6 separate regions of the Homo sapiens genome follow, and all the other regions are linked to region 1. Evidence: fine-mapped expression QTL. A gene starts in region 1. Each other region holds a variant in brackets. All regions are shown on one strand. Distances are between the middles of the regions. Region 1 holds the start of PLA2G7 (phospholipase A2 group VII). Region 2 overlaps SLC25A27 (solute carrier family 25 member 27). Region 3 has its middle 19 kb from the start of ANKRD66. Region 4 overlaps CYP39A1 (cytochrome P450 family 39 subfamily A member 1). Region 5 overlaps ADGRF5 (adhesion G protein-coupled receptor F5). Region 6 overlaps RCAN2 (regulator of calcineurin 2).

Evidence for each region. PIP is the estimated chance that this variant, and not a neighbour inherited with it, causes the effect. A credible set is the group of variants that fine-mapping cannot tell apart.
Region 2: its variant is the best candidate, but not a certain one, in a credible set for the expression of PLA2G7 in cerebellum (GTEx, PIP 0.77).
Region 3: its variant is the best candidate, but not a certain one, in a credible set for the expression of PLA2G7 in whole blood (TOPMed, PIP 0.62).
Region 4: its variant is the best candidate, but not a certain one, in a credible set for the expression of PLA2G7 in whole blood (INTERVAL, PIP 0.68).
Region 5: its variant is the best candidate, but not a certain one, in a credible set for the expression of PLA2G7 in whole blood (INTERVAL, PIP 0.75).
Region 6: its variant is the best candidate, but not a certain one, in a credible set for the expression of PLA2G7 in whole blood (INTERVAL, PIP 0.81).

What each region holds. Positions count from the first base shown.
Region 1 is chr6:46,732,937-46,738,014 of GRCh38, forward strand. It overlaps PLA2G7 (phospholipase A2 group VII), which reads right to left and starts at 2,439. Exons shown (of 12, transcript NM_005084.4): 1 at 2,244-2,439.
Region 2 is chr6:46,677,894-46,682,971 of GRCh38, forward strand. It overlaps SLC25A27 (solute carrier family 25 member 27), which reads left to right. Exons shown (of 9, transcript NM_004277.5): 9 at 1-297. All of the region lies in intron 1 of TDRD6-AS1 (TDRD6 and SLC25A27 antisense RNA 1), which reads right to left. It also overlaps a transcript of TDRD6 not described here. Among named protein-coding and RNA genes, the nearest start is that of TDRD6, 7.5 kb to the right of the region's middle. The variant C/T (reference allele first, on the strand shown) is at 2,114.
Region 3 is chr6:46,763,092-46,768,169 of GRCh38, forward strand. No RefSeq gene overlaps it. Among named protein-coding and RNA genes, the nearest start is that of ANKRD66, 19 kb to the left of the region's middle. The variant A/G (reference allele first, on the strand shown) is at 2,029.
Region 4 is chr6:46,594,827-46,599,904 of GRCh38, forward strand. It overlaps CYP39A1 (cytochrome P450 family 39 subfamily A member 1), which reads right to left. Exons shown (of 12, transcript NM_016593.5): 8 at 1,161-1,294. Among named protein-coding and RNA genes, the nearest start is that of CYP39A1, 55 kb to the right of the region's middle. The variant G/T (reference allele first, on the strand shown) is at 2,237.
Region 5 is chr6:46,854,925-46,860,002 of GRCh38, forward strand. ADGRF5 (adhesion G protein-coupled receptor F5) reads right to left here. Exons shown (of 21, transcript NM_001098518.2): 17 at 3,205-4,599; 18 at 1,943-1,984; 19 at 1,794-1,853; 20 at 1,050-1,134. Among named protein-coding and RNA genes, the nearest start is that of ADGRF5-AS1, 46 kb to the right of the region's middle. The variant T/C (reference allele first, on the strand shown) is at 3,160.
Region 6 is chr6:46,453,679-46,458,756 of GRCh38, forward strand. It overlaps RCAN2 (regulator of calcineurin 2), which reads right to left. Exons shown (of 5, transcript NM_001251974.2): 2 at 3,074-3,300. The coding sequence starts at 3,298. Among named protein-coding and RNA genes, the nearest start is that of RCAN2, 35 kb to the right of the region's middle. RefSeq lists an enhancer at 4,795-5,078. The variant C/T (reference allele first, on the strand shown) is at 2,173.

The sequences.
Region 1 (5,078 bases):
ACATCTTGAGACGTCAGTCAGGCTTATTATCACGAATCTTGAAAAAAAATTAGGCTTAAGAGGAATCAGAGTGTAAATAATCCAATATCCACCTTCCTTTCCAGGAAATAGCCATCTTCTTGGGTATCAGGAAAAGGAAGATAAAGGGGACTCCTAAACTGACTTTCCCAGGGGCTCCCACTCCAGCTGCTCAGGTACCCAGTTAGCACTTTTCTTAATGTTCTGTGCTGACAGAGCTTCAAAGAGTGTGGTAAGTCATATTCATGTGCAAAGGTGAGAGTGAGGGAATGTGTTTAGGCCCATGTATGTTCCTCACAACAAAAGTGCAAAGGGGACAGAGACACAATGGAGAGGAAATGAGGACCCAGCTGTCCCAGGTTCTGTCTGAGGGAAAAGTCCTGCGGTGCTAAGCAAGCCCTTCCACACCTCAGAAGGGATTTCTCAACTGTAAAATGAGTGGCTGAACCAGATTCACAACACTCCTAATGCTGCAACTCCTTCAGTCTTGCTGGCTGTACAGTAGGCAGTCACAGACTATGGTGCCAGCCTTGGGTATGAAGGGCCCAGTTCAATGAAGAAAGACATTGAGACATCACCACATGGCCAGCAGCAGCTTCTGGTGCACAAATATCTGGGGAGGGGAAAGCACTTTCAGTGCCCAAGTGCAAGGAGCTGAAGTAGGCCTGCTGGAAAATGCCAAGGTGGTGCGCTGTCTCACCACTTTCTGCAGGGCCAGCAGAATTCCTCTGTGAGGGAATCTGCCTGGGTGATGGAGGCTCACCAGTGCCTCGTGACCAGAAGGCCATCTGCTTCTTCTTGATCAGGCCAGTGCTTAATGCTCAGATCTCTGAATTCAATGTAAGCTCAAGGTTTCGTGCTGAGCCTCTTGGGATTGCCAACACCTCAGGGGATACATTTTCCAGCTCCTACCCATATACCAGTCTCCCAGCTCAGCATTCTCATTTGGATCAAAAGTAATTTGTGCAAGCCTGATTTGTTAACACATCCCAAATCTGAATCCGTGTGCCTTTTAAAGGTGGCAAGCTGCCATTTATGAGCCATACGCACCTCTCCTTCCTCATCACCACTGCAGTAATCCCAAGAACCACAGGCATGAATAAAAGCCCGAACTTTTCGTTTTTGGTGACAGAAATTTCTCTTACAAGCTCCAGGAGATGATGAGGAAGACAGTGTTCTCTGTTTTCTGATTTTGCTTAATTTTTTAAAAATGAGCCTCTCCCTTGACTTGGTGACACAGCTGTGATCTTATCTGGCCGGCAGGGGGATGCTCCAGGTAGGACAAAGAGTGCTTTGTTTTGTTCTTACAGCAGCCACGCATAACTGGGCTCCAAAAACGCAATACTCCTCAAAGGGAGAGTGAGAGAGAGGGAGAGAGGGAGAAGGGTGTGTGAGAGAGAGAGCGGAGGGAGAGAGAGAGAGGAGGCAGAGTGAGAGGTGTGTAGTGGTGTGTGTGTGTGTGAGAGAGAGAGAGAGAGAGAGAGAGAGAGAGAGAGAGAGAGAGAGAGAGAGAGAGAGAGAGAGAGAGAGAGAGAGACGGAGAGAGAGATTGTCCCTGTAGGAGATCTACAGATAAGAAAACTCCGGGGCGGGCGCGGTGGCTCATGCCTGTAATCCCAGCATTTTGGGAGGCGGAGGCGGGCGAATCACGAGGTCAGGAGATCGAGACCATTGTGGCGAACACAGCGAAACCCCGTCTCTACTAAAAATTCAAAAAAATTAGCCGAGCGTGATACGGCACGCCAGCAGTCCCAGCTACTCGGGAAGTTGAGGCAGGAGAATTGCTTGAACCCGGGAGACAGAGGTTGCAGTGAGTCGAGATCGCGCCTCTGCACTCCAGCCTGGCGACAAAATGAGACTCCGCCTCAAAAGAAAGAAAGAAGGAACGAAAGAAAGAGAGAGAGAGAGAAAAAAAAGAAAAGAAAACTCCATGTGTTCCCTGCCTGTCCTGATTCTCCCCCCAGCTCTGAGCTCTTAGGGTTGCTTCCTTTCGGGAAAAGGTTTGGAAGAACTGGTGTCTAATACCGTCATCCTCTCCCTCTCCCCGCAAGGATCCTAGCGCTGTTTCCGAGGGCTGCAGGGACTGTGAGCCCAGGACCGGCCAGCAGAGCGGGTGCGACTCAGCGAGCCCACCCCGGCCGGTCGCCGCTCCGGGGTCCCGACCTCCAGCGCGGCGACCGTGCCCTTCCTCCCACTCCCGCCTCGCCCCCGGGGCCCCTCCTCACTCAGGCGCGGCGCGGAGCTGCTCGCGGGAACTGGGGTCCCTGGGCGCGTTCCACCGCGCACCAACGCGACCCAAGCGCTCCAAACCCGACTGCTTCTCGCCGACAGCACTGCGAGCCTCCGACCAGCCGCTGTCCCCCTGGCTGCGGGCCGAGCAGCTCTGGCAGGCGGCGGGCGGGTGGGCTGCGCGCGGGCTGTGTCCTGGGTCCGCCTAGCGCGGCCTTGTGGCCCCGACCCTCTCCTCCCCTGGTGATGCTGGAGGAGGTACCGGGGAGGAGCGTGTGTGGCCCCGGCCTCTCACTAGCAGCGGCGGCTCCCGACGCTAGCCTGCTCGAGCGCACCCAGCACCCTCCCCAAGACCATGGCCCGCACCTGGACCCGCGGTTAACTTAGCCCGCCGCGGAGAGAGCCAGGCAATGCCTGGGTGGTGTCGTGCTCACCAGCTCCTTTCCGCAGACCTGATGCCGATCAGATTTACTCCCTGCTGAATTCACCCCCCAGTCAGGCCGGTTTTCCTTGTTTCACCGTGTTCTCTGAATACACTGAATTACTCCGAGCATCTATAGTTGGCAATGCCCTGCGCATTTTCCGCACTCCGATACACTTTACACTGAACACCAATTCGGAAGTTGTGTGGACCGTGCTCCAGATTGGAAGGCCTGCCACTGTGCTGGTGTCATTTCTCCCTGGAAATGACAATGAAGGACAATCAGGAATAGCACTTAGGTCTGAGGAGAAATGGAGCTAGAAGGAGCCGTTTCATAGCTCAGTGTAACACAGAGTTATTTGGGGTTTAACTGAAACGCCTTCCTTCATCTTCCAATGTTTTCTCTTCAATCCACTTTCTAATAAATTAAAAACACACTCATTTAAAACTTCAGCTAGAAACTTAGGGAAAGTAGTTTGAAATTTATGTGTGGTGTTATTAAAATTTTATATTTTTAAATCGTGTTTTGGTTTTTGGTGAGGTGCCAGAACTGGAGATGAAATTTTGCTTATTTTGATTTTGAGTATTCTGCAGTAAGATGGCCTGAATTTTAGCTTGTTTCTCCCACTTATGAGTGGTGTGACCTTGGGGAAGTTCATCATCTCTGCTTCTCGGTCTCCTCATCCATAAAATCAAGAAAATCAAAATCAGTCAGTCAGAGGCAGTTTGTGAGCACGAAATGCAAATACATGTGAAATGCTTGGGACAGAGCTTGGCCTATGGGAAACATTCATTCAATATGTGTTATCTAATATTGATAGCTTAATGAAGCAGTGACTCATTTAAACCTAACAATAGATTTTATTTTTAATTTAAATGGAACTCTATCCGCCTAATGACATTGTCTTGTACTTCCTGGACTAACCCCCTGTAAAACAAATGGCCCACAAATATCAATCTAAAAGGATACATTATGCCCTACCAAAGACATCTCTAACGTCTTCTTTTGACCTTAAGACAAAGGTGAAGACAAAGTTGAAGTTGAAGACCTAATCCCACACTAAAAAGGTGGTAAGCTTTGAGAACAGCTCCTGAAAACAAGTATGCAACATTTTATTCACTTCTCTCATTGCCAGCAACATGTCATCTCCCATTGTCATTAGGTCATATTCTCTGAGCAGCCCCACAGCAGTTGGCATTTGGCAGGTTAGTGCCCTGAGAAGATGCCCAGTGAAGAGTGCCCAGATTTAGCAAATAAAAATGCAGAACATCTGGTGAAATTTGAATGTCAGATAAACAATAAATAGTTTTTTAGTATAAATATGCCCCATGCAATATTTGGGACATATACTAAAAAGTTATTTGTTGTTTATCTGAAATTCAGATTTAACTGGGCTTCCTGTATTATATCTGGCAACCCAGTAAGTAAAATTAATAAAGAATATTCCTCACATTCCAAGAGGATAAGTCAACACAGACATACAGATTATAAGGTGTGTCTGATATGGGTTGTTTTAGTTTTTTATGAGTTGGTTCTTTGTTATTCTGTTTCCTACATTTAATTCCTCCTCTCATTTCCCATTGACATAACAGTACCTATTTCCTCTTTAATATGAATGAAACTGATGTCTCACCTCTTCCCTTCAATCAAGATATTAAATTGTAATAATGTGCTCAATTTCTTTTTCTTTTCTTTTCTTTCTTTCTTTTTTTTTTCTTTTCTGGAGATATGGTCTCACTCTGTCACTCAGGCTGAAGTGCAGTGGCATGATCACAGCTCACTGCCGCCTTTACCTCCCAGGCTCAAGCAATCCTCCTACCTCAGCTTCCCAAGTAGCTAGGATCACAGACACATATCACCACACCTGGCTAAATTTTTTATTTTTATTTTTTGTAGAGACAGTGTCTCACTATGTTGCCCAGGTTGGTCTTGAACTCCTAGGCTCAAGCGATCTTCCTGCCTCAGCCTCTCAAAGTGCCAGGGTTACAGGTGTGAGCCACTGTGCCTTGCCATGCGCTCAACGTTTTTTTTTAAATTTGAATAGTGTTTACTGAGGTGAGGGCCAGCTGTATGTCAGGTACCATTTCAAGGATGAATAAGACACAGTCCTTCCCTGGAGGATAAGGAAATAACAACAAAAAGTGCTACCCTATTAGGCAAATACAGAGGACTGTGGGAGTTCAGCAAGGTGAGTTATTTAATTATCCTGAGAAAGATGTGGGAGTCAAGGACACCTCACTGTCTGGGACCCAAAGAAAAGTGGCTCCAACCGAGATAAGCAGGAGAGGTCCCAGAATGGCAGCAGTGTGGAGGCTAGGAAGCAACCCATCCTGATTGCAGTAGGAAGTCTGGAGGGAAAAATAGGGTTCAATACAATTGAAAGCATGACTAGGAACTTGGAAGCCCTCG
Region 2 (5,078 bases), 55 kb before region 1:
ATTTGAATGTCATGTACTGATATGCAGTAGCTTATTGTTTTTCTAGTTGCAGAGAATGTGAAGTTTAATCTCTTAAAATATTTAGATGGTCTACTTTTTCATTGAATTTGTCAATATGTAATTGCGTTGTAAAATATTATATATATATATATATATATATATATATATATATGCTTAACTTCCCAAGTGTTCTGCATTGAACCACTTAGGGAAAATTTTGTTTGTTTTTATGTTTTGTAATTTTTAAAATTAAGTAAAGACTGGATCAAAATAATTGCATCCAACCTGGACCGTGAACAATTGATTTAGCTTTATTCTTTGTGGGGTCGGGGAGTTGGGATGAAAACACTGCTTACGCACTGACATCATTCCTTGGGATCTGGATCAACACGAATTTCAGGAACTTTTAACCTGAAATGACTCCTTGGGATTATCTAATTTAACCTTCCCATTTCACATGTTAGTAAACTGAGATTCAGAGAAGTAGAGTTGTTTATGCTCATGAGTGACTTAGTAGCAGAGCCAGGATAAAAACACAGTTCTCCTAATATGATTATTATGACTGAGAGTTATTGTTCACTAATTAGGTACCAAGGAAGGGTCTTATGTCATGGTCACAACCCAGTAGAGTCTTCTAAAAACAGATTTTTCCTTATGGCATTTTTATGTCTCATACATTTTAGATGAATCTGAATTGTCTCTAGCATACATTTTAGAATGGAGTCACCATGCTTTAGCTTGAACATGAAGACCTTCTATAACCTAACCAAATCCAGTATACCCAATACTTATCCAATCACATTCATAATTTTCTGGTGAAATCATATCTACTGATTATTTTGGAACATTGCTTATTTTTGCCAACTTGGAATCATCTTGTTTTCCAAAATAATCCTCAGTAAATAAAAAGGATTAAAAATTTCAGTAATTTTTGTGTCCATACTCACAGACTTAAGAATTCCAAACTCACTTACTTATAGTACTACTCTATGTGGTATTTCTCTATTTTTTCTCCTCTCAAATGATTTTTTTCTTACTGAAAATGCATATACTTATTTTTAATTATGTAGTTTTTTATATGTATAAATGAATTAGTATATATAATTATAGACTAAATTTGCCATATATGATATAAATTATATATGAATTAATTTATATATAATTAAAGGGATAACATTTATTAAGTTTGCTTTCAATATGGAATAACATGTCTTTTTCAAGTGCTCCCAATACTATTTGATTGTAAGCTACTAGTGGGTAGGTATACATCTTCCATTTTTATATAAATCTCTGCTCTCTTTAGTAGCATTTCTTTGCTATTAAGAAAAAATGATTACAGCTACGTATAACATGAATCAATTAATTTTATCTTTATTGTTTTAAGAATCTGTGACTGGCCAGGCATGGTTGCTCATGCCTGTAATCCCAGCATTTCGGGAGACCGAGGTGGGCGGATCACGAAGTCAGGAGATCGAGACCATCCTGGCTAACATGATGAAACCCGTCTCTACTAAAAATACAAAAAATTAGCGGGGCGTGGTGGCGGGCGCCTGTAGTCCCAGCTACTAGGGAGGCTGAGGCAGGAGAATGGCGTGAACCCAGGAGGCGGAGCTTGCAGTGAGCCGAGATCATGCCACTGCACTCCAGCCTGGGTGACAGAGTGAGACTCCATCTCAAAAAAAAAAAAAAAAAGAATCTGTGACTATCATATGAGTCTGCAATTTCTCTTTTACTTTGCTAATAAAAAAATAAAAATTCAGGACAATATAAATATGAAAGGATTTGTTATTCAGTCATCTTCAAATTTTCAAGCACATTTATTTACAGTTGTTATAATTACATATATTTTTTCTATTAATGAAAACAAATTCCTTCAGGACTTTCCTAGAAAAAATGGTCAATTTTAATACTTGATGGTTAAAACAATTTCTTTGGAAAGGAAAATAAGTAATTCTTTTCTTCCCAATTAAACTGAGACTCTTTAAAGATGACTACCCAGCAAATATATATTATTATTGAATGTCAGATAATGTGGAAGAAAGACTGAACCCAGAATCTAAAGATCTTTATCCTATTTTGGGTTCTACTTCTGACAGAAGAGTATAACTAGGAT[C/T]AAGTCCCTCCACTTCTCTGAATTCCCATTTCCTTAAAAGCTGAAGTGGGACGGGCGCGGTGGCTCACGCTTGTAATCCCAGCACTTTGGTAGGCCAAGGCGGGCGGACTGCCTGAGCTCAGGAGTTCAAGACCAGCCTGGGCAACACAGTGAAACCCTCGTCTCTACTAAAATACAAAAAATTAGCATGCGCCTGTAGTCGCAGCTACTCGGGAGGCTCAGACAGGAGAATTGTTTGAACCCAGGAGGCAGAGGTTGCAGTGAACTGAGATCACACCACTGCACTCCAGCCTGGGCAACGGAGGGAGACTCTGTCCGTGAAAGAAAAAAAAAAAAAGAAAAGCTGAAGTGATTGAACTCTAGAATCTTAACCTGTGTATACCTAAAGGGAGCCATATTGATGTGATGTTTAAAAAAATAGAATTTTAAAAATGTCATTAGGATTCTTTATGCTTGGGTTTATATTCTCATATTTCAAGATGGGGAAAAATTATTCAGACCTTAAAGTACAATACAGACTTCTGACGTGTCTGGACTGTCACCCTGAAATCCATTCTTCACAGGGAAGCACAGTCGTCTTCCATGGGGCAACTTTGGGCATATTCTCACCTTCAATTTCTCCTATATACACACATACTAAAAATTAAAACCTTTAATGCTATATCCAAGACCCTCTCAACCTGACTCCAGCCCATTTTTCTCACTTTTACCTTTCACTGCATACCTGTACCCTACCTCCTTGGAAATGCATTGCTCTAATTATTTCCCTGGAGATGCACTATACTTGCTGCTTTTCTATGTAGTTTATTCTGTTCCCTCCATCTACCTTTCTTCCCACCACCACCACCTATTCATCTTTATTTGTATTGGTTAAATTCTACCTCAGTTATCTAAAATAATCACCTACTATTTCCTCTCTGAAGCCTTCAGTATCTTCAGTACCCCCTTTCTCCCACTGCTTCCCCTACTACATAGATGTACATATCAGCGTCCCCTACACAAAATGTATTGCTTGAAAGCAAGGACCATGTAACACATCTTTGTATCCCTTACAAACTTCAAATAGGAGCCACTCTGAAGGTATCTGTTGAATTGAGAGGGTTTTTTGGAGAGTGGGGAGAAAGACATTTATACACATGATTAAATCATTTTGTTCTCTTCTTCAGAATAATTATGTTGGGTCAATAACACTTCTGATTTTATGAAATTTTTTACCATATTAAATGCTTAATTATGTTTTTAAATGATCATGTGTGTTTAAAACATGTCATAATTTTAAGGATCATCTTCATCTGTTTAATAGCTATTCCATAAAATTGAGAATTTGATAGTTTTAAATAATATATAATTGACTAACAGTTAATAAATATGTGATTTTAAAGCATGTATGGAAATTATATCACTATTTGGCCTTCATTGATGCCATATACATGAACATTTTACCCACTCAAGTGTTTTATTATTTCTGAATTTTGAGGAATACATTACTTTCTTCTCTCCCCATACTTTACCCCCAACAGGCTGCTGTGATTGTCAACAGCAGCAGGAGCCAGTTGAAGGTTTGATAAAAGCAGATGAAGATGCTTAAAGATGTCTGTTTGCTGAAAATATCTGGTAACAAACAGGAATATATGTGAGTAAATAAACTGTGTTATTCTGATTTTAAAAGTAAATATTTTAAAGTGCCTAATTGCTTGTTATCACGGGTTTTGTTTTGTCCTGATATAGTTCTGAGTTAAGAAGGTAATAACAAGGAAGGAAATACATGCTACAGCATGGATGAACCTTAAAAACATTATGCTGAGTGAAATAAGCCAGGCAAAAGTGAATACATACATGATTCTACTTGAGGTACTAGAATAATGAAAATTCATAAAGACAGTTTCGAATAGTGGGGAGGGAATGAGGAGTTGTTTAGTGTGTACAGTTTCAGTTTGGGATGATGAAAAAAATCTGGAAATGGATAGTGGTAATGGTTGTACAACAATGTGAATATATTTAATGCCACTGAGCTCTACACTTTAAAATGGTTTCAATGGTAAGTTTTGTTTTACGTATATTTTACCACAATAAACAGAAAATTTAAAAATCCATGTACGTAGATGTGAAAAATATTAGCAAATTGAATCCAGCATCATATAAAGTATAATACATCATGACTAAGTGAGACTTATCCTGGGAATACAAAATTGGTTCAACATCCTAAAAAATCAATATAATTCATCCAATTAACAGAACAAAACAAAACATATATCAACAGAATGTGAAAAAGTATTTGATAAAATTCAACAGTATTTGATGTAAAAATTCTCAAATTTTTACATGAGTAAAAAAGAAACTTCCTCATCTTGATAAAAAGGATCTAAGTAAAACCTGTAGCTAACATCGTATTTGTGAAAGACTTTCTCCTTAAATCAGGAACAAGGCAATATCAATTCTTACCATTTTATTCTAATCTGTACTGAAGGTCTTAGCCATTGCAGTAAAGCAAGAAAAGGAAATAAAAGGCACATATATTAGAAAAGAAGACATGGAACTGCCTTTATTCACAGATGATATAATTACATATATAAAAAAAATCCCAAGGAATCTACCAAAAGCTACAAGAATTAATAATGAAGTCCTAGCAAATTCACAAGATATAAGGCCAATATACAAAAATATATTTTGGTATACTGGCAATGAAAAACTAGGGACTAAAATATTTAAAAATTAATATTATTTACAATAGCATAAAAACATTAAAAACTTAGGGATAAATCTAACAAATGTGTACAAGATTTGTTCACTGAAAAATATAAAACATTACTGAGAGAAATTAAAGATTTTAGTAGAGCAATGAACTGTGTCCATGGATTAAAAGACTCAGTATTGCTCCAAAGTTAATTATTGTCAAATTGATCTCTACCTACAAAGCAATTCTAATAAAACCCCAGCAGCCTTCAAATTTTTTTGCAGAAGTTGA
Region 3 (5,078 bases), 30 kb after region 1:
CTGTGTGCTCCTGAGGGCACTTTATTCAACTTTGGATATCTATTTCTTAGATCAGTAATTATAAATGCTTGCTAAAAGAAAATTTAGAAAGTTACAATCAAAATATTAGAAGATGCCTTTATAAATGAGAAATCAAAGCTGTTAAGGGTTGAATTGTTTCCCCCCCTAAATTTATATGTGAGGTCCTAATTTTCAGTTCCTCGGAAAGTGGCCTTATTTGAAAATAGGGTCACTGGGGGTGTAATTAATTAAGTGGAGTGGAGTTGAGTGGGCCTCTAACCCAGGATGATTGCTATCCTTATGGAAGGAGACACTAACTGAGGAAAGAGGATGTGAAGAGACACAGGGAAAAGATGGCCATCTACACACCAAGGAGAGAGTTCTGCAGCAGATCCTTCCCTCACAGCCCTCAGAAGGAAACAGCCCTGCCAACACCTTGATTTTTGAATCTCTAACTGCCAGAACTATGATGAAACAATGAATTTCTGGTTTAAGCGACCCAGTGTGTCATACCCAGTGTGTGATACTTTGTTATGGTAACCCTAGCAAACTAATTCAGAAGCTACTGACTCTTGGCTCTGAGCTACTTCCATTATATTACCAAGAGGGTGAGTAGCACTATGTATGTCCAGGGCTCTTCTGCGTAGCATTTACATGTTTACTTTGGCCAGTGACTGAATTATATGGAAATACTTTCTTGTCCATGGGAAGATTTTTATATCTTATTTTTAAAAACCAACCTTTACTGTGGATTCTAAGAACTGTACCACAGAACACTGCATTCAGGGTATGTCTCCATGAAATAAAAGCAGCTAGTTAGAAACATTAAAAATGCAGGCAACAATGTTATTGTTTAGTACTTATATTATCAAAAAGATTGGTGGGATCTATTTTGCTTAACAATACCCCTTATTGGTCATTCCTTGGGAGAGAATCACAAATACCCTGATTTCAGCCAAAAACATTGTTAAAATTTTTTCTTATCAGTTTTCAGACCTTAATCCTTGAACTTCGGAATTAACAACCTTTTATTTTCTGTTTCTGTCTCATATACTCCCTTGGCAGGCAATGTTATTTTAAAAGTTCCTGAAGAGAAACATTATAAGTAAAACAAAAAAAGCATCTAACAAAAACCAATTTAACCAGATCACATATTTCACGCTAAATTTTTCTGTAACACTTAAAATGATTGATTCAGTTCATCTTCTTATAATATTGCAACACTGATTTGGGAGACAATGATATCTTGACTCCTGCTTTCCACCCTCCACATTATTAAGTGAAGAGGAGAAAAATTTAGAAGATAAAGTGACTACAATGTGGATTTTAAAATCTCTCAAGAAGGAGACCCTTAAAACAACCTCGATCGGCCGGGCGCGGTGGCTCACGCCTGTATTCCCAACACTTTCGAGGTGAAGGTGGGCGGAGCATGAGGTCAGGAGTTCAAGACCAGCCTGGCCAATATGGTGAAACCCTGTCCCTACTAAAAATACAAAAACTAGCTGGGTGTGGTGGTGCGTGCCTGTTGTCCCAGCTACTTGAAAGGCTGAGGCAGAAGAATCGCTTGAACCTGGGAGGCAGAGGTTGCAGTGAATAGAAATTGTGCCACTGCACTCCAGTCTGGGTGACAGAGGGAGACTCGGTCCCAAAACAACAACAACAACAACAACAAACAACAAAAAAAAACCCACCTCGATCAAGAACAATACTAAAACATAAGGCTACAATTTTCAGAGAAAAGACAGATTTCTTTAAAAAAAAGTTAATAATAAAAATTATGAATAATTATATACATTTTTTTCTGATCCCAATTCTCCAATCTAATTTCATTTCCTAATACTCCGCTTTGTACACCCCTGGTGCCTGCCAAGCTGGGCTGCTCACTGCCTACTGATACCTACCCTGTGTGCTGTTCCAAACATGTTACCATGTCTACTCAACAAGTTTTTGAGTTAGTTGTTATTTTAAATGAGGACATAGGGGTTCATAAGGTTAGGTAATCTGCCCAAGTCACACAACCAGCAGAGG[A/G]CAGAGCTGGAACTTGGACTTAAGCTCCACAGCCTGGCCTCACGTCCGCGTGCTACACTGCCTGTCTGCTCTGAGCCCTGGCTCCTGTCATCTCTGCTAGACACCCTCTGTCTTCCCTCCTGCTTCTCCAAATCCTATTCCTTCTTCAGGGTCTACCTCCACCAGAAAGCCACTCAGAGTACAAGGCCCACTCTATTTAGTCCTGCTTCGGGTTCGAAATAAACTTCTAATGAGATAGTTTCCTTTTCTTGATTGATTCATAGATACCACTTTCCTCTGAGTTTGGGTCTTCTTTAAGATCTCTAAAAAGCAAGGGCTCTGCATATACTTCTTTTGTTTCTCCCAATGGGCCTAGGTAGTCCCATGTCATGCTCAATATACATTTCTTGACTGAGATTGAGTCATCGAGTATTTTCTAGATAAGGGTGAGGAATAATTTTTTTTCCCCTAAAACTGAAAAAACCAAATAAAATCCTCATTGAACCTAAGCTAAAGTATTTAAGAAGTTAAGGATGGTTTTCTCAGCAACCTGGAGAAACTTGACCTTTTTGTTTTCCAAGCCTGGCCTTTCGAAAGTGGCTCAAGTTGAATTTTAACTCAAGTTACTGAAGTGGTTGCAGTGACAAATAGTAGAAGCTTCTTTTTACTGAGCATCAGCCATGTGCATGCCAGGTATTTTGTATCAATCTCTTCAAAATGTCATACTTAAGTAAGGGTTTTTACAGATAGAGAAATGCAAGTTTAATAAAGTTATTTGTCTGAAATCAACCAATAGTTTATTTTTATTTTTTATTTTTTTTGAGACAGTCTCCCTCTATTGCCCAGGCTGGAGTGCAGTGGCATGAGCTTGGCTCACTGCAACCTCTGACTCTCAGATTCAAGATATTCTCCTGCCTCAGCCTCCTAAGTAGCTCAGACTTCAGGTGTGCACCACCACACCTGGCTAATTTTTGTATTTTTAGTAGAGATGGGTTTTCACCATGTTGGCCAGGTTGGTCTTGAACTCCTGACCTCAAGTCATCTGCACCCCCCTCAGCATCCCAAAGTGTTGGGATTACAGGTGTGAGCCACCATACCCAGCCAATCAATAAATTATTAATGAAAGATTGCAAACTATAGCTGCTGTGCTTGATTTTTTTTAGCTCATTATTTTATATTCTCCAATGCTGCCTTTTTTGGATTTAGATGAATTCCCTTAGTTCTCAACCTGCATCTGGAATGTTTCTGGGAAAACTACTTAAAATTTCTGATCTCAATTTTCTTTTTTATATTGTTTTCACAGTTGACATGATGTCTACTTAGAAAATCCCAAAAACATCTGGAAAAATAACTGCTAGAACTATTTGGGCCACTGGGTTGCAAATACACCAGTGATGACCTTAAAAGAATAATAGTTCAAAATGACCAACATAAATCAATGGTTCTTAATAGGGAAGACTGACCTTAATAAGCCAAACATCTAATTTTTTGCTTAGGTCTAGAATTACATCAATCCAGTGAGATAACCCTCGTTCTTTTATGGTAATCTGATTATGGTGACTACAAATTTGATAAAATTTTTGATTAATAAAAATGGAGAAATCTATAGATATTAAAAGTAGCAAAATAATACTATGAAAAACTTGATGCCTACAATTTGACAACTTATCGGAAATGGGAAAATACATTGAAAGACATAATTTGTCAAAGTTTACTCATAAAAAATTATCTATTTTAAAAAATTCAAATTCTAGTTAAAAATAATCCAAGATGGAAAACTTCAGGCCCAAGTAGCTTTACTGGCAAATTCTACCAACCATTTAAGGAAAATACAATACCAATTTTATATCAATCCTTCCAGAAAATAGAAGAGGGAGGAATGCTTCTAACACTTGTTATGAAGCCAGTATTACCCTGATAACAAAACCAGACGCAAACATCACAAGAAAACTACAGGCCAATATTTCTCATGAACACAGGTACAAAAATATTTAACAAAATGCAACAAATCAAATCCATCAATATATAAAAAGATAATACACCATGGCTAGGTAGTATTTTTTACCCCACGAATGCCAGACTGGTTGAACATTCAATAATCACTCCTTGTAATTCTCTATTTAGTCTATCAACAGACTAGAGAAAAGAAACCACATGAGACATGAGAGAAGCATCTGAGAAAATTTAGTAAAATAAAATAAAAACACTCAGAAAACTAGAAAAACCTACTTCATCTCATCTATCAGGAGAACCATAGCTACTGTAGTGAGTGGTAAAAGACTGAATGTTTTCTCCCTAATATTGGGAACAGGACAAGGATGTTCTTTTCTCCATTCCTATTCCACATTATACTGGAGGTTCTAGCTTGTGCAATAAGATAAGAAAAAAAAAGCTGAATAAAAAGAGACTAAAATAATCTCTGTTCATGGATGACACAATTGTTTATTTAGAAAATTCCAAATAATCAGAAAAGAGAGCTACTAGAACTAGTAAGTGAAACCAGCAAGGTTGCAGGACACAAGTTCAATATAATTAAAGTCAGTCCTCATTTCTATATATTAGCAAATGCACTACTGGTAATTGACAAAATGCATAAAATGCCATTTATAATAGTACCCAAACTACATGAAATACTTAGAGATAAATTTAAATATGAGCAAGGTTAGTATGCTGAAAATTATAAAACTGATGAAAAATCAAAGATCTAAATAAGTGGAGAGATACAAATGCTCATTGACTAGAAGACTCAATATTGTTAAGATGTCAGTTCTTCCCAAACTGCTGTATAAATTCAATACAATCCCAATCCAAATACCAGAAGGACTTTTTCTTAGAAATTGTCAAGCTGATTCTAAAACTTATGAAGAAACGTAAAAGAGCCGGAATAGTCAAAACAATTTAGAAAAAGAACACTGTTCAAGGATGCACACTACCTGATTTCAAGGCTTATAATAATAATCAAGATAGTGTGATGTTGGCAAAAATATAGATACATAGATTTATGAAACAGAATACAAAGTCAAGAAATAGATCCCCACAAAGATAGTCAATAGATTTTTTTGTCATAAAAG
Region 4 (5,078 bases), 140 kb before region 1:
AAAAAGCTTATGTATAGCCAAAGAAACAGTCAACAGAATGAAGAGACAACCTAATGGGGGAAAATTTTTGCAGGCCATACATCTGACAAGAGGTTAATATCCAAAATATACAAGAAACTTAAACAACTCACTAGTAAAAAACAAAAACAAAAAAAATGATTTTTAAAAATTGGCAAGGAATCTGAATAGACATTTCTCAAAAGAAGGCATACAAATGGCCAACAGGTATAAAAAAATGCTCAACATTACTAATCATCAAGAAAATATAAATTAAAAACACAAGGATCTATCACCTTGCTCCTGTAGAATGGCTATATCATAAAGATGAAAGATAATTGTGGAAGAGGATGTAGAGAAAAGGGAACACTTGCACACTATCGGTGGGAATGTAAATTAGTATAGCCATATGGTAAACAGTATGAAGGTTCCTCAAAAAATTAAAAATAGAACTACTATATGATCTAGCAATCCCACTACTGGGTACATATCTAAAGGAAATGAAATCAGTATGTTGAAGACATATCTGCACTCCCATGTTTATAAAATGTATATATACATAATGGAATACTATTTAACCTTTAAAAAGAAGGAAATGCTCTCATTTGTGACAACATGAATGAAACTAGAAAACATTTTGTTAAGTGAAACAAGCCAGGAAGAATGACAAACCACATATAAGTGTATTTTCACTTATATGTTGAATCTAAAAAAAGTGAGCTCAGAAATAGAGTAGAATGGTAGTTACCGGGGATTGAAGGGTAAAGAAGGGGTGGAGGAGGACCTGGAGAGATATTAGTCAAAGGATACAAAACTTCAGTTAGACAGGAGGAGTAAGTTCAAGAGGTCTATTGTATAACATGGTGACTATTCCTAGTAATGACATATTGTTTTCCTGAAAATTACCAAGAGAATAGATTTTTAGTCTTCTTACACAGAAAACTGATAAGCAAGTGAAGTGATGCATATTTTAATTAGTTTGATTTAGCCATTCCATAATGTATACATATTTCAAAACCACATGTTGTACAAGACAAATATATAAAATATTTATTTGTCAAGTAAAAATAAATCAAGATATGTCAACCTGAAAAATATATGTGGGCAAAATGTGTACTTTTTTTGTAGAAGGTTGATTCATTTAAAACCAAACCAAAGCTTACCAAAATTTCCACAGGCTTCACCACTTTTCTAGTAATGACACCAGGAGCTTTTAAACGAATGGTTTCCAAAACACACCATTTAATTAGAAGGAGATTCTCCAGGTCATCCTCAGACACTTTAATCTTATCTTTGCCTGTAAAAAAATTTTTAATGAGAAATAAATAGACTACAGAGGTCAGAAAGTGATTTCACGTAAGCTCATCAGCAGAGGTTAGATGTTGCCTCTGACAGCAAGTAAAGTGTTCCTATTACTATTACCTATTACAGGTTTAGTCATTAATTGCCTCTTTTTCTTTATCACTTTTCTCTTGACAAGGTAAAATGTATGACACAAAAAACTAAGCCAATGTTGATTACTGTAATGTGATGGATTGGTATCCAACTTAGGTTCCCACAGTCTTATAGCTATCAAATAGCTAAGACAGTCCTTGTCAGAAAGGTTTTACTCATCTTTTTCTTGTCTAAATTCTCATTCCACTTATGTAAAAAGCAATAAAAGACTGACATCAAAAGCACAAAGAAAAAGATACGAGAAGCCATCCGGCCTTTTTCTTCTGCCTTTACCCTTTTGAATTGCTTTTTTTTTTCCCCCTAAATCATTCATTTCAAAAAAACAACTGGAAAAGGGGCAATGGGGCACAAGTATCTGAGCTGGAAGAATGAAGATGCCCTCTAAACACAGGTGCATCAAACTTTCTTAACGTGATGTGCATACTTTATTTGATCTTTAGACTGAAAGCACCTGAAAAAGGAGGGGGTGGGGTGGACGAAGGGCATCAACCATCAACCTTTGTACCATCTAAAGTAATGGCAGGAACTTTCAGTCAAATTAGACAGTTTAGTTAACAATATTTCAAGTAAAATGTTTGCATTTTGAAAATTACTTGAAACAACTGCGCTTTCAATTTGTTTTTGACAGTATTTGCTTAAGAAAAGTCAACAACAATATTGTCAGTTTAATTAAGTCAACGCATTTCTCTTTTTCACATTTGCTTTCAGACCATCTTGGGAATGAGTGGGTAAGAGTAGAACTAGGGTCTCCAGCCATGTCTCTCTTTGACTCTGGATGAGGCGT[G/T]TTCAAAAGCAAGCCCATTTTGCAGGAAAAGGTTTATTGGGTGCTGCCTGGGAAACCTTTTCTGTCAGTATAGATAGAATTCCTAAGGAGTCAGAAGCAAACACCTTTGGTTAGTGGAGTCTAGGAACCTATGAACTCCATTCAATCTGACAGATTCTTAAGTACCACGTAGGGACCAGGAGCTGAGACAGGCTGTACCAGTATTACAATAACTAAGGCGCAGCTCTTGCTTGCAATACACTTAGTCTACTAGGAGGTAAGAGACAAGCACACAGTTGACTAGTACAACATGTAGGCAAAGAAACTATTTTCTAAGATGTAAAATATTCTAAGGTAGTTAAAAGCAGATAGGGTTCACAGCTAAGGTAGTTTAAAGCAGATAGGGTTCACATCCAACTAGATGAAAAAGAAAATATTTTATGAATATATTTCTCTAAAACTACAAATATGATTAGTTTCTTGCATAGAGTCAACCCCAGTATATATATATTAAATTAGCAAATGGTCCAACTTCAACATAGGGAGGTGAATGGGTGGATATTTTAGGCAAAGAGGAAGAACAAAAGTAAGACTGCAGACAACATGAGTACATTTAGAAAATGGCAATGGGTCCAGTTTGCCCAGAAGGTGAGACATATGTGATGGAACAGTGAGAGATCCACTAAGGCCATACTACAGACGATCCTAAATGCCATTCTGGAACATCCGGAGGCTAGAGAAATTGGAAACTTCCTGTCTTAGGCTGAGGGAGTGTTAACACCTCAACAATGAAACAGTGATATACAGCACTATTCTGTATTAAATTAAGACCTTCGGCTTATTTGCTCAGATCTGAGCAATCTAATATTAAAAGGAGATAAGCACTTTTATGGGATTTTTGTTGTAATCTCTGCAGGCATTGCCCAACAAAACTGTTGGTTTTCCTTTTCCGTAACAAAGATTGGAAAACAATAAGTATGCCTTCTGCATCTTCACAACCTAAATGCCACAGTTTTTCCAAATTGTGTTCTATGAAATATTTGCAAGATGTCAAACGTATGAAGGAGGAAAAAGGTTCATGGGCAACCAAATACGAAAAATGCTACATGTTATTGGTGATTCACTGGACACATTAGTGTATTACAGGCTTTGAGAAATCCTGCAATAAAACAGTTATTTACACTGTTATTCTCAAACTTTTTGTAACATGGAATCTGTCTTCTACCAATATCCATACAAGCAAATCATTAGCTACATAAAAGATAACTAGCTATATAAATTAGGATACAGATTATTTCCAAGGCAATCCTCCGAAAAAGCAAACCAACCCTATTTTTAATGTCTGAAGATTACTAGCACATGGCATAAACTTTCGTGCACATGGCATAATCTATGAGTAGTTATTAAGAACTAAAACATGATCACCAACTGAAAACTGTCTTGATACACCATGGAAAGACAGGGGTACCATACATTTTACTTAGTTTACATTTTCCCCAAACTATCCCAACATTTTCTAAACTAATTCGGAAAAATAATTTAGAAAAGCCATGGTCAGAATTCTTTATTTGAAAAGTGGCTGAGATTTTGCATATGTAACAGATATCATTGCTAAATCAAATAGACAAATGTTTGGCATTCACTGGAGAATAAAGTGCTAAGGAAATATAAGAAATTTAAGTTTTGGAGATCTTTACCATCAAAAAGACTATAAGATGAAAAATTAAAGAAAGAATAAGTGCTTTGTCTAGACAATGTTAAAATGAGAAATCCTGAGGTTCTAATTTTTGAATTAGTTTATGAATGACACACAAACTTAGAGCAGTGCCCGGTATGTACTAAGTGTTCAGTACAAGGTGGTGCTGATTTACTTTTTATTTATTATTACCGTTACTATTAATGCGAATTTAATAATGACTCTTTAGAAACCACACCTTCCTATCTACTTTTACTCCATAGCTAATAAAGTTATTCTTTTTCCTGAAACCTTTATTGGGAGAAAATTTAGAGATTGGCGTGTGGGGTTGCATATGCAACACGAATTGGGGGCCAGGTCTGAGGAATTCCTTCCATTATTTGTTCAGTAGATATCTGCAGAGACTGAGACCCTACAGGTAGTTTGCAAGTGCTGAGTATGAAGATGTAGGTCATGTCTCTGGCTCTGAATAGTCTGATAGAGAAGACAGAGAACTAAAAGTGGTTAATGCAATAAGCGCTATCACATTAAAGTGTGCAACTCGCTATAGGAGCACAGCGGTGACAGTGACCAGACGGGGGAGGGAGGTGTCAGAGAGGCTTTTCAGAAGAAAAAAATCTGAAGAAAAAATCAGATACACAAAAATAAAGAGCATGTTCAGATAACAGGAATTCAGTGTGAAATAGAGTCTGGTGTAGCAAGTGACTAGGTCAATCAACTGTAGATGCAGATCAGAACAAGCTGTCGCACTGGTTCTTGGCGGTTTGGTAATGGATCCACCCTCTCTTCCAAGGGTGTTCCACTGAGGTTCCAGTCTGCTCATACCAGATGAATCCAGAGATGACAGGAGGTATCTTTCCCGCTATCCAACTTCTGAATGTACCCCAAGACTGCCAGGTGTCAGTTCTGGGCCCTCTTCTCTTCTCTACATTATCCTCCTGGGGGACTCAAACAAACCCTTTTCTATAAAATACCATCAGTGGGCTAGTGACACCCACAATAACATTTTTTGCCTTCATCCCTTTTGTGAGCTCCAGATTATTGTTATCCAGCTGGCTTCTCATTGGCTTTGTTTGCAGGTCTAAAAGGCATCTCAAAGCAACACTGGCCTACACAGAACTCTTCACTTGCCCCACTGAAATAAAGCCTTTCTTCCCTTGGTCTTGC
Region 5 (5,078 bases), 120 kb after region 1:
TTAACAGTTATAGGAATTCACAAAATTTGCTTGTATATGAAAAGCCTTCATCTGGAATATTGATGCATTTCTCAACTCTGCATTTGTGAGATCTGTTCAGTTCCAAAAAGCTAGAAGAAATCCTGGGGCTTATTTTCCTGTGAGGAAGGGATGATGGCATGGGGACAGGGGTTTCAATTTGCTAGAATAGCTGAGGTCTGTTGCCCAAAGTTATTAATTCCATTCATTTCATATCTCCAATGTAGAAATTTAACTGTGAATATTTTTTTTTCAGTGAGATACTGTGGCCTTTGCCAGTTGAATCAATAATAGCAGGGTTGACTGAAGTATCAGCAGCACCACCACCACTACCACTATCGGCGTCATCACGAATGCCGAGTAATTACTATAATCCATGTACCATACTAAGCACTTTATGTATATTTGCTTATTTAATTCTTACAACTCTATGAAGTCATAATTATTACCCTATTTTATAAATGAGGAAGTGAGTTCAGAGAGGTAATATTTCTAATAGAATAGCTAACTTGGGTGATCCCTTACGTAATGCATGCACAGTTCTATACGCTTCAATGTGTAACACAAGCACACTTTATAAAAAGAACAAAAAAGGAAAACAAACCTACATAGTGAGATCCTGTAGTAAGATTTTCTAAATGTATTCTTTGCTGCCCCATAACCCTGAAACATGACCTATCTACTCTTATCTAACATAATTTGAGAAGAACTCTGTGTTTGACAAGGCCAGCAATTTACAGTTCTCATTTTGATGGATGATATTTTGACAGATAGCTCTCCAAATCATTGTCTAGATTCTCCAAATCTTATTCTTTATGAGTTATTATAAGTTGCTTAGCAAAGGCAGCTGCCCTCTGTACCCACTTTTTGGTGATTTGTGAAAATGTAAGTTCCTCTATTTAACCTCTACCCCAAAAGAGGACATTTCAGGTAAATGCCATGAGCGGGGTGAAAGAGTAGGGGTGTTGAGGCTCCCCATTTGAGCAAATGTGTTCTGGACAAGCAGGGAGAAACTGGAGGCCACTACTCACCTGTTTTACCAAACAAATTGTTAAATCTCCTTGATATTGGAGAACTCATAGAAAACACAGGTGTGGATGAACCCAGGGATGTTGACTAGAAGAGAGAAAAAAAGGGACAATCACAAAGCAAATTTGTGGGACCAAAGCTGTTTCCATCTCTAGAAGGATTGATTTTCCACCCTCTAGTGGTCACTGCCGGAATCTCTAGTCCCACTCCCAGAGGTCACATTAAAATACTGGAATCTTATCATCTGTATTAGAAAAATAACTGTCAAATACAAGTTTTATTGTTTGTTAGGCTTCTAGCATTTTCTGACATGTGAAAGGCAGTCAGATATATCCAAGGGCAATAGTTGTGTTCCAAAATGAACTACAGAAAATTCTATCCATTATTATTCTTCAACTTGTTTTCTCTAATGCCTTGAATCCCCCCAGAAGATTGCTTCTCATTGAACGTTTGATTTCAACCTTAAGTTTATATCATATATTATTTTAAAACCTATTTAAATATGTGGAGTAGCATCTCAATGACAGCTCTATGGCTCTATTTAATAGACAGAATGACTTGAGAAGCAAAAACAATGGAATGATCTATGCCAAATACAGCTGTTGAGGGAGACAGGTTTGAGGATGCAATATATTTAGCCTAATTGATCAAAATCCCAAAGAAAAAATTTAGTACTCTGTACTTCAGAATGCTAGTGGAATACATGATGTTATAAAATGAAAAGTCTCTGCAGAGAAAAAGTTTACCTTTGAGTGCTGTGAAGACCATCTCGACAATGAAAACTTATTCAGCAAAGCTTCCTGTACCTGCATTGTTAAAAAGAAGCTATCGTAACTTCAACATGCCACAAGCACTTCAGACTTTTCTAGAAACATGAAACTGTCATTGCTCTTACCTTCAGATCCCAGAGGCATCCAAAGAGTAAAATGAATAATCCCTGAGAAAAAAAAGATTGAAAAGAAGTGCATTTTAATTATAGTCTATTGTCCAGCAAAGGAGGAAGTACTGTTAACCTGGTGTTAAATTTGTACTACTTCTTTTTCCTTCTGAGTTTATGGAATGAGTCCAGTACATGATACTGTTCAAAGACAGGCATTTGGTCCACACCAAGGGACTCTAAATGTTATGATGTTAGGAAGATATTTTCTATTTTCCAATTTTCCTTTAGTTGAAAACTGGAGGTCCTGTTGGTTATGCTATTAATACACCTCTTGTGTCTACAATATTCTTTACATAGCTGTGATAAGAATCTGGGCTATGGGGTGGGATAACTAGTTCCTTCCAAATGAGGCATATCATGAAGGTCATTACATATGAACTACATAGCTTGGAGACACAGGCCCAGTAGCAGAAATCAAGGTTCATATGTTCTTGGCACAAGCATCCTGAAAGCAGTATCTCGAGTGTGCCTCCAGCCTCTGCCTCTTCACAAGTTTACAGTGGCCTCAATCCTTGGGCAAGTTTTTTTCTATCCTTACCACCTCTCCATTGGGTGAAACAGAATTAATCACTTCCTTCCTTGTACTTTAAAGGCTTGCTATCTATACCTCTGTTATAGTTCTTCTAACAAACTGGCCTGCACTGTAGTTAGTTATGTGCTGCAGGAGAGCGAAGAAGATGTTTTTTCATTGTAGTATAATCAAGCAGATTGTCTGGCATTCACAGGACATTCATTCTCTGATTTTTGATGTTTCCAGAGAAGCTGCTATGTGGTACATAGGATTTATTTCATTCAAATGATTATTGAGAACCTACTCTGTACCAAGGTCTCTATCAGGCATAGAGGTATAGTGATGAACAAGAAAGGGGCAATCCCTGTCCTCACAAAGACAGGATTTTCATTTAGGAGATAATAGACTACATCAAGATAATCTTAGACAAATGGGGATTTTCCTTTTACTAGTGTAATCAGTGTATTTAGCAGAGACTGGCAAATGACACTAAATTATAATGTAGGTGATAAAAAGCATGAGGTGCCATAGGATCAGAAGAATGTGTCCTTTCCATCTGATTGAGTTCTCATTATTACTGCTCTTTAGAGCTGAGGCTTCCTCTGGGCTGAAATCCTTCCCCATTCCTACTCTTGTTTGTGTTTCTATCATTAATTTGTCC[T/C]ACAGGAATAAAATCTTCCTGAAAGCTCCGCACTGTAAAACTCACCTGGAAGACATTGAGGATGGCAAATATGATATGGAACACAAGGTTGGTCCCTGGGAACACAGTGGTGAGACCAAAACCCCAAGTGAGGCCCAAGAGTGGTGTGAGGACCCCAATGCTCTTGCTGATCTGAAACAGGCTGCTCTTCTCCTGCTTGCATGGCTTGTCTCCAATGGAAGGCCTCAGGATCTTGGTGATGACCACAATAGTGATGGTTATGTTCACCACCACAATGATCAGTGCTGGGATGGCGAAAGCCAGCAGGGCCTTGGTGTCCTCCCAGTTGAGCCAACAGACATTCTTCCTCGTATAGACTTCCCGGGGCTGGGTGGCTCCCAGCGTGATGACCGAGATGGCAAGTGGGCAGCCATAGCCAAGACAGAAGGCAATGGCTTTCTGAGTGGACCTGCTTGTTTCATGCAGAATGAAAACCAGGCGATAGAACAGCATGAGGCCCAGTGTCAGCATCCAGAAGAAGACGCTGAGGTAGAAGAAGTGGATGAAGAAGGTGGCAGCCACACAGGCTGTCTTGCAGAGTATGTAGCGATTGTCCTGGATGGCAGCGACCACAATGAACCAGGTGTTGGCGACCAGAAGGGAGGCAGCGATATTCACTATGCAGGTGTGGCGCATATAAGAAGTCCGGTTCTTGGTCACCGATTTCCACACCACAGCTTCCACAACTAGACAGGCTGCCAAGCTCAAGATGGAAAAGCCCACCCCAACATAAGAAATAATATCCAGGAGTATTCCCAGGAGAGAACTAGGATCTGGGGAGTCAGGGGACATGAGGATGGAGAATGATGTTAGGTGGTCACAGATACAGGTGACATTGTCCCCATCACCTTCTTCTACATAGCACCCACTGCTGTCCCACCCCCCTGTGTTGTTGGCAAGCCTGAAGTTCCAGAAGACACACTTCGTTTCGCCGCCTGAAGGGCTATTGTTCTTAAAAGTCATTGAAATCCTGAATGGCATAGTTGTATTGTGGCTGACAGTGGTTGTCATCACTAAGCTCTCTGCAAAGTTATTTTCCTGGATATCCTGGGCAAGGATGGCTTGGAGAGTTGGGAAAGCCATGGTGACAATAGACGAATCCGACTGCAAGTTTTCTAGATAGCTCTTGTCAATGACCACATTGCCCCAGAGGTCAAAGTATGGGAAAACAAACCTCTGTTGATAGGTTTCTGGGTGGCTGGACTTGATTACCATGCTGCTCATCTGCACATTAGTTTGGGAGAAGGACAAAGGAGGGCTATCTCCCGACTGTAATGCTTGGGAAAATCTTTCCACTGAATGTAGTAGCTGTGAACTCTGATTGGTCCATTGCTGTTGTAAAACCTTCCAGGTGTTCAAGACGGGCTTGCCAAGGATGACATTAACCGTAGAGAGCACGTGCTGAAAGTGAAATGGTATGGGGTCAAACTAACCAAATTCTTTCAATCATAAAAAAGAAAAAAACAACATCTTCCTAGAAACTGATTGCATAAAGGTAAGAGGAAATGAGAAAACAAAAATGAGACATCACAGGCAGTGGGGATGTATGACCTTCTTATGGCAGAGTTTAGCAAAGGATGGGTCCCCAAGACTGAAAGATGCCAGTAAGCATTTAGCAATGGTGACAGTGAGAGTCACACCCACTACACACCCTACTCTCTAAGGCCAATTCAGCAGGCTGGCAGGGATATTTACTATTTTATTTTATTTTATTTTATTTTATTTTAAATCTTAAGCCTATATTTTTAGTAGAGATGGGGTTTCACCATGTTGGCCAGGCTGGTTTTGAACTCCTGATCTCAGGTGATCCATCCGCCTCGGCCTCCCAAAATGCCTGTAATCCCAGCTACTTGGGAGGCTGAAGCAGGAGAATTGCTTGG
Region 6 (5,078 bases), 280 kb before region 1:
GAAAAGGTATCTCAGACATGTAGGAAAATAGAGAAGAGAATGCTGCAAGACTCATTTGTGATAGAAAGCAAAAGGTTTAATTCCTACCCAACTATGGAAGTTAAATGTATACTTTATAATAATTGCAAGACAAAGGCTAAACTTAAATGCATCAATATCAAGACACAATGATTTCAGAAGCAGGCTGTGCCAAAAAAGAAAAGACTCTGCCAAAACAAATTACATATGAAACCACCGACCCTCGTAAACCTTGGAAATGAAGGCTAAGCATCATTTCTGATGTCTCCACCCCCTGCTATAATTCCAGGCTGCTGAATACATCTTCCCAAAGCCAAATATAAAAACAATTACCATGGCCAGCCTTGCCCATAGGCCAATACAAGGAGTGCTGGAAATGCTTTTTGCTTCTTTTCCCCCTGCCTAAAAATATCTCCCCACCAACTTATCACAGTGCCTAAAATGTCCACCCTTTGTGGAAAATACCCATCATCAGACTTCATGGCTCAGATTCACGAAACCTAAACCTTGTGGAAAGAATATTCTGACAGAATGGAGTATGATACTTAATGTCTTAAAATAAGTGATTTTATCATAATAGTTTTTTAAAAAGGAGGTTAAATGAAAGAAATATGAATTTCTGGGTCTGGAAGAGAAATATGCAGTGAAAATGAGATGCCACAAGACTCCCCACTTTTTTTTCTGGAGTCCCAGCAATCATGCCTCCTGGCTATTGTCAACTTATCTGGTATCTGATTATCTTGTTTTGTCACCTTAAACTATATAGATATAATTAAGTCAAAATTAAATCCATGTCAGATTATTTGGTATCCTAAAGACTGTCCACAAAAGGAAGAGTAAAAAAAGAAAAAAAAATCTTGCTGAGGTAGGACACTTTCTGATTTAATAAACTGAATTACATAGACTTCAGCCAATTATAAAATTCACCTCCATGGCTGTAAAATGGTGATCTAAATCATTTGAAACTGAGTGCAATTAACTATATTCTTGTTTATTTTGCCTCAATATTTTATCAAGGTCATCCTAAAACCAAATACTATTTCCCAAACTGCTATGCACAAACTTCGTATACACATTAGATGAGAATATCTTGTAATCCTTTATTCAATCACAAATCAGAATATCAAAATAGATGTGTACAGACTCCCATGAACTCCCCCCTCCAGCCCCTGTCCTTCTATGTCCTCAGTTCTAATTCAGTTAATCAGCCATTCTTGAGCAGCACTGCTAAATGAGATTAGCACCTTCCTAGGCCTCATTGTTTCAGTCTACTGGGAAGTATTTAATCAGGAAAGAATGAAAACCCTCATTAAATCTCTAAGGAAAATCCTTCTAATTGTGATATTTAGAGAAATGGATGATATGATGAGAATACATAGACTGTTGCTTTATAGTTTATGGCAGGTATATTTCAGAGGAAACTACTTGCCCTGAGAAAATTATCATTTGTGATAATCTGGTTATAATCCAAGAACAAAATTCTCAGTTTCTTCCAAAGAAGAAATTGGCATGTGCCACTTTCTTACTTTAAATAGTCTGATGATCATAGCACTGGAGGTTCTAATTATATATAATTCCTTGTATTTCAAGCTATTTTCAGCCCATAATTTCAACAGTTCAACTCCACACTGATATCATTATAAAAATATCTTTAAATGGCTTAAAATAATTCCTAATCCTCTGGGATGGTTTTGTCTGTGGCTATCAGGATTGTCTACAAAATCAATCATATCCGTAAATCAGACTTCCAGTAATTATGCCAGACACAGACTTCAGCAATGGGCAGAAAGAGCTAAAGTCTGTGAAACAGCAACCATAAAGCCTACTCTTATACCTCACACAGAGTCATATACTTTAGTTTAGAAAAAAAAAAGCCTCAGCCGGGCGCAGTGGCTCACACCTGTAATCCCAACACTTTGGGAGGCCGAGGCAGGCAGATTACGAGGTCAGGAGATCGAGACCATCCTGGCTAACACAGTGAAACCCCATCTCTACTAAAAATACAAAAAATTAGCTGGGCGTGGTGATGGGCGCCTGTAGTCCCAGCTACTCAGGAGGCTGAAGCAGGAGAATGGCGTGAACCCAAGGAGGTGGAGCTGGCAGTGAGCCGAGATTGCACCACTGCACTCCAGCCTGGGCAACAGAGCGAGATTC[C/T]GTTAAAAAAAAAAAAAGAAAGAAAGAAAGAAAGAAAAAGAAAAAGAAAAAAAAAAGGCCCTTTATCCAAAAAATTTTGTCCATGTTTCAGTAGTATAATAGTGGCTTTTACAACTAAGAATCTACATCTACAAGGGAAGGTTTAATCCATTTAGATACCCCATTCAAAGGTCAGAGAAATCTGAAATAAACTTTGGAAAGGTCTCCAAATGGAATATTTACTGTGATTGCCAAAAACATTTACACTAAGTTAAGTCTGTTTCTTAAAATGGGAAGCTGGAAAATGTTAATACATAGACAACCTCATTCCCCTATCATTTCAAATTGAGGAGTTGCTGCTTCATTCAAATTCTTACAACACACACATGGCAATACCACCATGGTATCAATGAGCAAAGAAGGACTCAGATGCCAACCAACTTACCTTCTCTAATATCTACTGTGAGACTTGGCTCACAGTTTAAGAAGGCTTTTTTAGAACATTCGTCAAGCTGCGGGAAGGCTGGAGGTAAAATGGAGTTTGTATTGTTTTGAGAAAGGCAAATTATATTTATGGCAGAATAGAGGAAAAGGAAACTTTTAGGAGTTTAAGACATCTGCTTCCTAGCCTAAGGGGCATTTCCTACAATCCATATTAACACCATTTGTTTTGCTAGATAGACCTGTGAGTCACAGAGGACTCAATTTGATTCAACATATTCTCATCTACAACCCTGTCAGATGTATCTCTAAAGTTAGTTGATAATAGAATGGGATTTTCTTATCCTGGTACACATGCCAAAAATAGAGCCAACTAAACATTTCCAAAAACTTCAAAACACCAACCACAAATGAACAACAGGATTACTTGGAGATAATGCCATATCTCCCCATGTTTTAGGAACAGAAAAAGGCAGCTTACCTTGCTCTCTTCTCCTTCAAACACTGACTGGTGAACATTGCACGCAAACAACGAGTTGGGGAGGTCATTGAAGTCAGTGATTGCTTGAAAGGCTTCTTCTGCAAAACAACGAGTGACAGCCCAGTCCCTGTCTATGCAGCACAGTAAGAAAAGTCCTCCATCTTCAGGGACGTGTCCCTGCTGCCCTGGGCTCCTCATTCCGATGAAGTATGATTCTCCCCTCATTCCTGGGGATACAAAGATGAGCATGTGTTACTGCAGAACAAATTCCTTAAAACTCAGTTTTCGGGTCACAGTTTTGTATTGTCAGGGGCAGAACAGTGGAGTACGATTAGGAGCAGAGGCAGGGGATATTGGAAGGGAGAAGATCTGCAAGTTCACATGGTTCCCTTGATCCCTGAACCAGAATTTCCCATACAGCTCTGCTCTGGGGCAAGAACCGAGTCAGTACTATGGTTTTTTAAAACAAACAGACAAACAAATAGGTATAGGAAATGGAGATCACCACCACTACTACCAATGTCTATCGTGTATTGAGTTCCAGGCACTATTCTAAATGATTTATATAAATTTAGAACATCAATTACATACATTAACTACCTTATTTAATCTCCACAATAGTCTATAAGGTTGGTACCAATATTTTCCCCAATTTACAGATGGGAAAACAGGAAGAAAGCAATTAAGTAACTTTTACAAGACCACTGACAAAATGGCAGGGCTAGGATTCAAACTCAGGGAAACTGGCACCAGAGCTCACTCTCCTATGCCACAGGAATGAAGCAGATCAAAATAAGTAGAAGCCTATATTTAAGAAAGTATGATCTACTTCATCAGCACCTGAATCCTGATCATGATAACTCTAACAGGTAATAGTTCATCCTGTGAGAGTACAGTGAGAGTAAACACACCACACACACACACCTCCCAGATATTTCCTCTTCTGACTGAGATAATTACTTCAAGTCATTTGTGAACCAGGTCCAGATCCTAAAAAAATCAGTGCTATCTTGATCAATCCATGGTGCACAGGTCCCCGTCCCTCCTTGCCTTGTAAGGCTTTCCAGTATTGATTTCACCTAGCTGTGTTCAACCCTTCTATTATTTTTTCACCCCTTATATTTGCAGTTTGCCTAACTGCAGAGTTTTTCCATTTTTTTGATACTGGTACATAATTTAGTGGATTAGGTCAGTATCCCCATATAGTCCAAGGCTGGTATCTACTTTCTTCTTTTGTACCGATTTTCATGACTGTGATACTATTCTGCTCAAAGCTCAATAGTTAAGAGGCTCGGAAAGTGAAATAACTTGCTCATGGTTACGCAAGTAAGACTGACTGAAAATTATGACATGGCTACTGAATCATCTTCAGGAAGCTCCATGTTCTTCAGTCCCATCATCACAGATGCTCAGAGCAAAGGACAGAAAGGTGGGTACCACTAAACATCAATCTGCTCTCATGAAGTTTAGCTAGATACAAATTCCAGATCCCCAGACAAAATATCAGTTTCTGCTTATCTCTCTCTTGAACTGTGAAATAAACCCTTGAACCTCATAGTGATGAGGTTATGTTTTTTATTTTCATTTTTCCTAGAAAAGCCCCAATGAGAGTTGGTAAGCAGCATTTTCTGGCAATAATGCATTACATATAAAATCTTAAGCCCGGTTGAGGTAGGAGCCAAAAATTAAATAGTTTGAGGTGATATCTCTAAAATCAAATCATCAAAATTGTGGTAAGTAAAAATTTCTATATAAAATATAATAAAACAATTCTTGCACTCCAAAGTTCTTCAAACTCCAATTAGCGCATTTCCATATTTAAATCAACAAAATACTTATTTTAAATAAAAATATGGTACATGTTTTATTAAATAATCTAAAATATATGAATATTTTTAACTAGAAGGAAAAACATGTAATAGCATTAATATAAAGGGAATTGAACTGCTAGACAACTTCAATGAAACATGTGCATGTATTTTCTTTCATATTTATTTATACTGTT